Regions from separate parts of the Homo sapiens genome. Here all the other regions are linked to region 2. Evidence: fine-mapped expression QTL. A gene starts in region 2. Each other region holds a variant in brackets. All regions are shown on one strand. Distances are between the middles of the regions. Region 1 has its middle 29 kb from the start of MYO10. Region 2 holds the start of MYO10 (myosin X). Region 3 overlaps LOC124900947 (a long non-coding RNA gene).

What was found. PIP is the estimated chance that this variant, and not a neighbour inherited with it, causes the effect. A credible set is the group of variants that fine-mapping cannot tell apart.
Region 1: its variant is the best candidate, but not a certain one, in a credible set for the expression of MYO10 in monocytes (TOPMed, PIP 0.85).
Region 3: its variant is the best candidate, but not a certain one, in a credible set for the expression of MYO10 in monocytes after LPS (Kim-Hellmuth 2017, PIP 0.80).

The regions. Positions count from the first base shown.
Region 1 is chr5:16,963,503-16,966,262 of GRCh38, forward strand. No RefSeq gene overlaps it. Among named protein-coding and RNA genes, the nearest start is that of MYO10, 29 kb to the left of the region's middle. The variant C/T (reference allele first, on the strand shown) is at 1,487.
Region 2 is chr5:16,934,923-16,937,682 of GRCh38, forward strand. It overlaps MYO10 (myosin X), which reads right to left and starts at 1,366. Exons shown (of 41, transcript NM_012334.3): 1 at 866-1,366. The coding sequence starts at 886.
Region 3 is chr5:17,103,919-17,106,678 of GRCh38, forward strand. LOC124900947 (a long non-coding RNA gene) reads right to left here. Exons shown (of 2, transcript XR_007058707.1): 2 at 2,110-2,760. Among named protein-coding and RNA genes, the nearest start is that of MIR10522, 51 kb to the right of the region's middle. The variant A/AT (reference allele first, on the strand shown) is at 1,320.

The DNA of each region.
Region 1 (2,760 bases), 29 kb after region 2:
CATACTGTTCTTGTGGTAGTGAATAAGTCTCAAGAGATTTAATTTTATAACAGGGGAAACCCGTTTGCTTGGCTCTCATTCTCTCTTGTCTGCTGCCACGTAAGACGTCCTTTTCACCTTCTGCCATGATTTCGAGGCCTCCCCAGCCACGTGGAACTATGAGTCCATTAAACCTCTTTTTCCTTATAAATTACCCAGTCTCAGGGATGTCTTTATCAGTAGCATGGAAACAAACTAATATGCTTTTCATTAAAAAAAATTTTTAATTACTTTTTAGAAATAGCATCTCACTGTCACCCAGGCTGGAGTGCAGTGGTATGCTCATAGCTCACTGCAGCCTTGAATTCCTGGACATAAATGATCTTCCTGCCTCAGCCTCCCTGGTAGCTGGGACTACAGGCAGACACCACTATGCCTGGTTAATTTTTAAATTTTTTGTAGAGATAAAATTTCCCTGTGTTCTTGCTCAGGCAAGTTTTAAACTCCTGGCCTCAAGCAATCTTTCCACCTCAGCCTCCCAAAGCCGTGAGATTACAAGGGTGAGCCACCGCCCCGAGCCCTTCATAGTTCTTGTAAGGACAGAACAAAATACACATGATCCGTGCACAATGAAGTGTGTAATTTGGTGATTCTGCGTGAGTTAAATGCTCTAACATTTCCCTTCCCGTGTAATTTGGTGATTCTGCGTGAGTTAAATGCTCTAACATTTCCCTTCCCCTCCCTTCCCTTCCCTTCCCTCCCCTCCCCTCCCCTCCCCTCCCCTCCCCTCCCCTCCCCTTCACTTTCTCCACCTTCCAGGTTCAAGCGATTCTCCTGCCTCTGCCTCCCGAGTAGCTAGGATTATAGGGGCCCACCACCACGCCCAGCTAATTTTTGTATTTTTACTAGAGACAGGCTTTCACCACGTTGGCCAGGCTGGTCTCGAACTCCTGACCTCAGGTGATCTGGCCACCTTGGCCTCCCGAAGTGTTGGGATTACAGGCGTGAGCCACGACATTTTCATTTAAAATGGGCATTGTGCGATATAATATGAATGTTGAGGCCGAGCGTGGTGGAGGTTGCAGTGAGCCAAGATCGCGCCATTGCACTCCAGCCTGGTGACAGAGCAAGACTCACACTGTCTCTAAATAAATAAATAAAATGGTGAAATTAATTTTTTTTTTTAATGAGATGGAGTCTCGCTCTGTCGCACAGGCTGGAGTGCAGTGGCATGATCTCGGCTCACTGCAAGCTCCGCCTCCTGGGTTCATGCCATTCTCCTGCCTCAGCCTCCCTAATTTAAAATTTTAATTTTTTGTTTAGCTTGGAATGACATTAAAGAGCAAATAAAAAACATTATGACAAGTGAAGGGACAGAGTACAGAAGAAAGGAAAAAGCTTTTTCTTGAGTTCTTTTAATGGTACTTCCCCCACTGCATATGGAACAAGAGGTCAGGCATCTTCATTTTGCACCAGGTCCCATAAATTATGTAGCCAGCCCTGACAG[C/T]GCCCTTAGTGGTTTTATGTGCAATTAGGGTAGTGGGGGAGGGCTGAGGTAGATTTTGAAGTGTCACAGTGTTATTTTAGGAAGGGAGGAGCCGACTGAGATTTCGTGAAGGAATGCACTTCAGAAAATGAGTGCAAAGATGAAAGTGCCGGGGCACTCAGCCTTTCATTATGCCCTGACTCCTCATTCTGCCACCCAAATGAATGACAGATATCCTCTACCAAAAAACTCTAAAAGATAGATGTGTAGGCCATGTTGGATGACTTCTTCAGTAAATATAATATGTCACATAAGTACAATTAAAGAATTAGAGATGAAAACAATAATGATTTTATATCATTGATATTGTTAGATAGGAAAGATTATATATATTTTTTTCATCCAAAAAGTCAGCATAAACTTTAGTCTGAAGGATATTGAAGAGGACTTTATTTTGATTAACTGATCAATAAAATAAAAATAAACTCGATTATCATACCCCATCCTTTTAGATTTTTTAACGTAAATATTTTATGAAAGTTTAAGTAAGTCTACAACTATCAGAAATAATAGTCTTGCTGTCCTTTGGGGAATTTTAAAAGTTTGTTTTCTTTAAAGGTACTCTAAAGTACTCTAAAAGTAATATCAGAAGATCTTGGATTAGTGACTTTGAAGGGTTTTTTTCTTTTCCCCTCTTCCTTTTGGAATTCTAAATATGTCCTTACACAGAAGACTTGGAATCCCTAGACAGAGAAAACAAAAAGAAATGGTGAGATTTCCTGGGCTTCTCTGATGATCTGCTGCTCCTAATCTATCAATTAAGATAGCCAGGTGACACTAAAGAAAGTAATCAAAAAGTGTCTGGTATTTGCAACCTAAGTCATGTTGAATCAATGCCATTTGTTAGGGAGAAAATTGCAAAGGCATGCAAACTCACATTTTAAAGGAATTTGTAGCCAAAGTCTCCAAGCACTAAGCAACATCTGGAGTATACTGAGCTCTTCATCATTTCGTTTATCTCATGTAAAAGTTTGACAAGAGATAGATGATCCTTTTTAATGTACTCTTGACCACCAAAATAATTTATTGATTATCTAGCTCCATACTCTACAATACAAGGGAAAATCGAAAATCTTACATAACATTAAAGACGTTTGCTGAACACTTACTTCATTTTGTGCAATTTACCTGGATTATCTTTTTTTTTTTTTTTTGAGACAGAGTCTTGCTCTGTCGCCCAAGATAGAGTGCAGTGGTGTGATCTCTGCTTACTGCAACCTCTGCCTTCCAGGTTC
Region 2 (2,760 bases):
TCAGACTCTCTCAAGTCAACTAAGTTTACTTTGAGCCACTTCAAACCTCAAACTTAAACAGAATTTATTAAATAAACACAACCAAGAAAGGAAAGGGAGCCAAGAAACCACAGTAAGTCTCGATCCCAAAGGGGGAAAAAGGGTTCTCAAGTTAAGTTTCAGTGTCCCACCCTCAACGACCCTAAAGAGGGCATCCGTTTCATCTATTAAAATAGCCACTGTTTGCCCTAAACGAATTTTCTTTACATTCGAATTCAAAATCTGCATGGACACTCTACACAAATACATGATCATTTGATCCCAGGGTCTGGAGTTATCCCAAGCCTTAAAAGAGCACTTCTCGGCGAGCAAAGTAACCGATTAAACCCTTGCCTCTCCTTCTCACACTTCATTAAGCCGTCTCCTCTGGAAGTGTTTGAACCCCTGCACAGGAAGCCCGCACGTTTTGCAAAGGAAATACCAGACAAGACCTTTCTTGGAGAAAGGCAGGTCCCCGCTGAACATTTTATTGGGCTTCCTGCACCCGGGCAGTCGAGCGGGCGGATCGCCCCGCCCGCGCCCCGGCGCGCGCCGCCTCACCTGGCGCGGGTGTCCCAGGGCGCCCCGAGAGCCAGCCACCCACGCAAACGGAAACGCACCTTCGCTACCTCCCGGAGCAAAATGCGAGCGCGGGACAGGACGAAACAAAACCTGCCCGGGCTTACTCATCAGAGACTCCGCGGGGGGATGGGGGGTGATTTCAGGAGACTCCCAGAAAGTTGCGCCTTCCAGGGCTTAGGAAAAAGTACCCAGGGCGCGCGGCGTGGTGGGCAGACGCCTCTCTCCCTGGGCTCCGGAGGCCAGGTCGGACTGGGAGCGCACTTACCTCGGTGAAGAAGTTATCCATTGTTCCAGCGCAGTCCCGGACTCGCCGAGTGCCGCTCCGACTCGCGGAAGTCAGCGCCGCCGCGGGTCCGGGGAAACCATGCGTGTCACGGCGCCACTCCCGAGGACGCGCGCCCGCGGGGCTCCCCTGCTGCCATCGCCCGGTCCCTTCTTGTCCTTCTCACCTTTTGTTCGCCCAAACCCAAGTCCCTAACTCGCCCGTCCCGACGGCAGCCTTTGTCTCTTCTTCCTCCAAGTTCCTCACTACTGGGCGCAGCGCTCGCAAGCGGAGAACAGCTGGTGGCACATTCTTCCCCCAGGCGGGGGAAGGCGGCGGGGTGCTGGCGAGCGCGGCCCCCTCCCTCTGCGCTCCGGCCGGGGGCCCTCGGGGCGGGCAGGAGGACAGCGGGCCGCAAAGTGAGCAGGAGCCGCGATCCCCGCGCGAGCGCTTGGAGGTGAGCAGTCCCGCGCCGCGGCTCAGCCAGCTCTCGCCCGCGGGACTACAGCCCAGCGACCTCGCCCCGCCCTCCCGCAGCCGGCCCCGCCCTCCCGCAGCCGGCCCCGCCCTCCCGCTCGCGGCCCCGCCCCCAGGAGCTTGGCCCTCCGCCAACCACACCGTCTGGCCCCGCCCGGGCGGAGCGCCCCGCCCCCTTCCCGACCAGGCCCCGCCCACTCTAAGCCCGAAGCAGCCGCAGGCTCGTTAGCGGACCCGGGAGGGGGCCGCGTGTTTCCCCAGGTCTTCCCACGTAGGCGTGGGGAGGGGATTTAACTCTTCCCTCTGCAGAGAGAGACTAAACAATCACTTAGAGGGGAGGAGAAGGGACTGGGGGCTTCTGTGCCTTTCATGTTTAGCAGACCCGGGAACCGGCTCAACACGGATCTCATTAATGCAGCCCGGTAGACTAGCAATCTCGGGAAGGAAGCGCGGTCAGCGGAGCTGCCGGGGCTGCGGGGCCAGATCAAAGCGGAAGACGGAGGCTAATCAGAATTTCTGGAAGCTGCATTCCCGTGTTGACTTTCTGTCCTGCAGTCGGGTTTGCTTAAGACGTTTGCGTAACAGCGGGGAAATGTAGTTTTGAAACTGGAAGGGGACGTGGCCAATATCACCTTTAAAAATGTAACCCTTTTCTAGACCTCAAGGAAGCAGAGATGGCAGATGGCACTGAGATGGACGAATGATCAAACCCACCTGGCACTGAGTCCCGTTTCCCCTAGGGCAGTTCTTTTAACTTTATGCTGTGCGAGGGTCACCTGGGAACCTTGTTAGAACGCAGGCTGGAACAATCTGCTTTCCAGGTGCCCCTCAGGTGCTACCTGGTCCTGTGCTGAACGAAAGCTTGTAACAAGTAGAGAAATTAAGAGTAAACGTTTGTAGCAATTTAATAATGCCACGACATCCAAGCACATGATCAGTGGACTCTTTGAACCGAGTATAAACCAGTTTGGGTGTTGTCAGACTCACGTGGTGAGTCACACCTGGCGCCGCAGTGTATTGGTACCTGGCCGACTGGGAACAAAAATGGCTGGTTCTTCAGCACAAAAGATTTGAGATGCTCTCTCCAGGGAATTTGCCAACTGCTACTCAACCTTTAAAACTCAGCTCACAAAGTCACACCTTCCAGGGGAAGGAACCCTTCCCAAAGATGCTACTCCACTCACCCCACCCAAGCTCCCCGTAACCACTGGGCTAGATGCCCACTCTAGGATTTATTCCTAAGACTGTTGGGGAAGGACTGTGCTTTAAGATGAGTATCCCCAGGCTGTCTCACAGCATGAATGAATGAATGAAACATCCTTCTGTAATCCTTATGGGGAAAGTCAAGCATGTTTGTAACTTATCCCAGTCCAGTTCTTCACCATTAATATCATTGCTCCCACCTCACTTCCCTTTAGAAA
Region 3 (2,760 bases), 170 kb after region 2:
ATGACGGAAAGTGCAAAATCATATATCTGTTGTTACAGTGGGGGCACTTTGCGGGGGGCGGTGGGGGTGTGGGTGGGAGAAGTGATCTGAAACCTTATGAGGTGAGGTTGTGTGCTGCTAAGGAGCATTTTTTTTTCTTTTTCTTTTCTTCTTCTTCTTCTTTTTTTTTTTTTTTTTTAGGGTCTTGCTCTGTCACCCAGGCTGGAATGCAATGGCTGATCTTGGCTCACTGCCACCTTGACCTCTCTGGCTCAAGTGATTCTCCCACCTCAGCCTCTCGAGTAGCTAAGACCACAGGTGCGTGTCACCATGCCCAGCTAATTTTGTTAATTTTTTGTAGAGACAGGAGCTCTCTGTTTCCCAGGCTGGTCTTGAACTGCTGACTTCAAGTGATCCTCCCACCCCTCCCTCCCAAAGTGTTGGAATTACAGGTGCAAGTCACTGCATGCCCAACCAAAAGCATTTTCTTTCTCTCTTTCTTTCTCCTTCCTTCCTTCCTTCTTTCCCCCTCGCCTCTTTTTTTTTTTTCCTAAGTTTTGCTCTGTTTCCCAGGCTGGAGTGCAGTGGCGTGATCTCAGCTTGCTGAAACCTCCACCTCCCAGGTTCAAGCGTTTCTCTTGCCTCAGCCTCCTGAGTAGCTGGGACTACAGGCGCGTGCCACCACGCCCAGGTAATTTTTTGTATTTTTAGTAGAACGGGGTTTCACCGTGTTAGCCAGGATGGTCTCGATCTCCTGGCCTCAGGTGATCCACCTGCCTCGGCCTCCCAAAATGTTGGGATTACAGGCGTGAGCCATTGCGTCCAGCCCACATTTTTTTTCTTAATCCCGGCCCTGGAAAACATTTTGATCTATAGAGGCATTTGTAAGGCTAGATGTCTTTGTACAATTTGTTAAGTAGTGTTCTGCAGACGATTGTAAAAATGGGTCAGGGAGTAGAAGGTGATATAAAGTATCCCAGAATATTGGTGAGGAAAGAAATCTGGAGTCATGTGTGGGAAGCACAGAAGGAAATTTTTAAGTATACAAGAAAGTTAAGAATGATAACTAGACTGCCTGTTCTGCCTGTGGAGTAGCCATTCTTTTATTCCTTCATTTTCTTAATAAACTTGCTTTCGCTTAAAAAAAATGATAACTAGACTGATAAAGAAGACATTAGCAATGAATGAATTGGATGAGTAAATCTTCAGTCAGAATGAGAGACCTGCTTGCTGTTGAATCTCTTGGAGGTCAGTCCTTTCACATTCAATAAATATGTATTGAGACCCGTGTCTTCAGGGCTCTAGGTGCTGGTGATTCAGTGGTGAATAAAGCCAAGGAC[A/AT]TTTTTTTTTTTTTTTTTTGAGACAGAGTCTTGCTCTGTCGCCCAGGCTAGAGTGCAGTGGTGCGATTTCATCTCACTGCAACCTCTGCTTCCCGGGTTCAAGCAATTCTCGTGCCTCAGCCTCCCGAGTAGTTGGGATTACAGGTGCCCCCTCAGAACCCCTGGCTAATTTTTGTATCTTTAGTAGAGACGGGATTTCACCATGTTAGCCAGGCTGGTATTGAACTCCTGACCTCAGGTGATCTGCCCACCTCTTCTTCCTAAAGTGCTGGGATTACAGGCGTGAGCCCTGCCAGCCAAGGCCATCGTGTTACCTACTTTACATTGTAATGCAGGAGCCATCTAATAAATCAATAAACAAAAATATAATGTAAGGTGGTAGGATGACAGGAGAAGCTTGCCTGAGAAGGTGACATTTGAAATGACAACAGAAGGAAGTGAGCTGTGCAGATATGTAGGGCAAAGAGCATTCCAGGCAGAGGGAACAGCAAGTGCAAAGGCCTCAAGGCAGGAACATATTTGGGGCTATTCAAGGGCTAGCAAGAAAGGCAGGGGGAGAGTGGAGGAAGATGACATGGGAGCAAGGGGACATTGCAGAGTCCTTGTAAACCATCTGAGGATGTTATTTTCCATCCTAAGATGAAGGCAGTGAGTGGTTTGGAGTACAGTGGGGGCGTGATCTGGGTTAGAAGGATCACTTTGCTGTATGTGGAGCCAGGCCATGGTGAGAGAACGGCTGTATAGCTATAAAAACTCTCTTCCAGATTTGCAAAATGTCGATGAGAATAACTGCTTTAAAATATCTTTATAGAATACTCTATCCAGTTAAAAGAAACAAAAGTTTGGCATGATCTTCAAATAACCCAAGGGGGAGAAAAATATTAGGCAAATATAAACAGCATTGCATTCAAGAGGTGAAGTTGAGACATGCTTTCAATCTAGCCTCTGCAACAGCCAAGTCATCACAGCGCAATCAAATCCAGCTGGGACCACGGAAGATGACTCCATATCCTGTGGATACTCTGCTTGGCACAATGTGGGTGGGAGCCAATGAGGGCTGGATGGATGGAGGCCCTGAGACTGCTGCCAACCCTTGTTCAGAGCTAGTGGAAACTTCTGACTCTGAAGTCTTCTTTGCAGCTGGAAATGGGGAAAGGACTTAGGGAAGGTGCTGAAGCTGGCTTGGATAAGGCAATGTCCCACTGGAGCTATTTCTGAGCATTTTATTATTACTCAAATCCGTCTTCCCTCCCCCTTTTTTTTAATTGGTAAGTTTTTATGCTGGTAATAATAGGTGATGCTTATTCATTAATTTACAATGTGCCAGGTACTATGTTAAACTTATCATATTCATTATCTTACTAATTTAAGCCTTCACAACAGCCCAATGTGGGAGGTGATATTATTATTGCCCACAATGTTTAGAAGTGGGAACACAAGT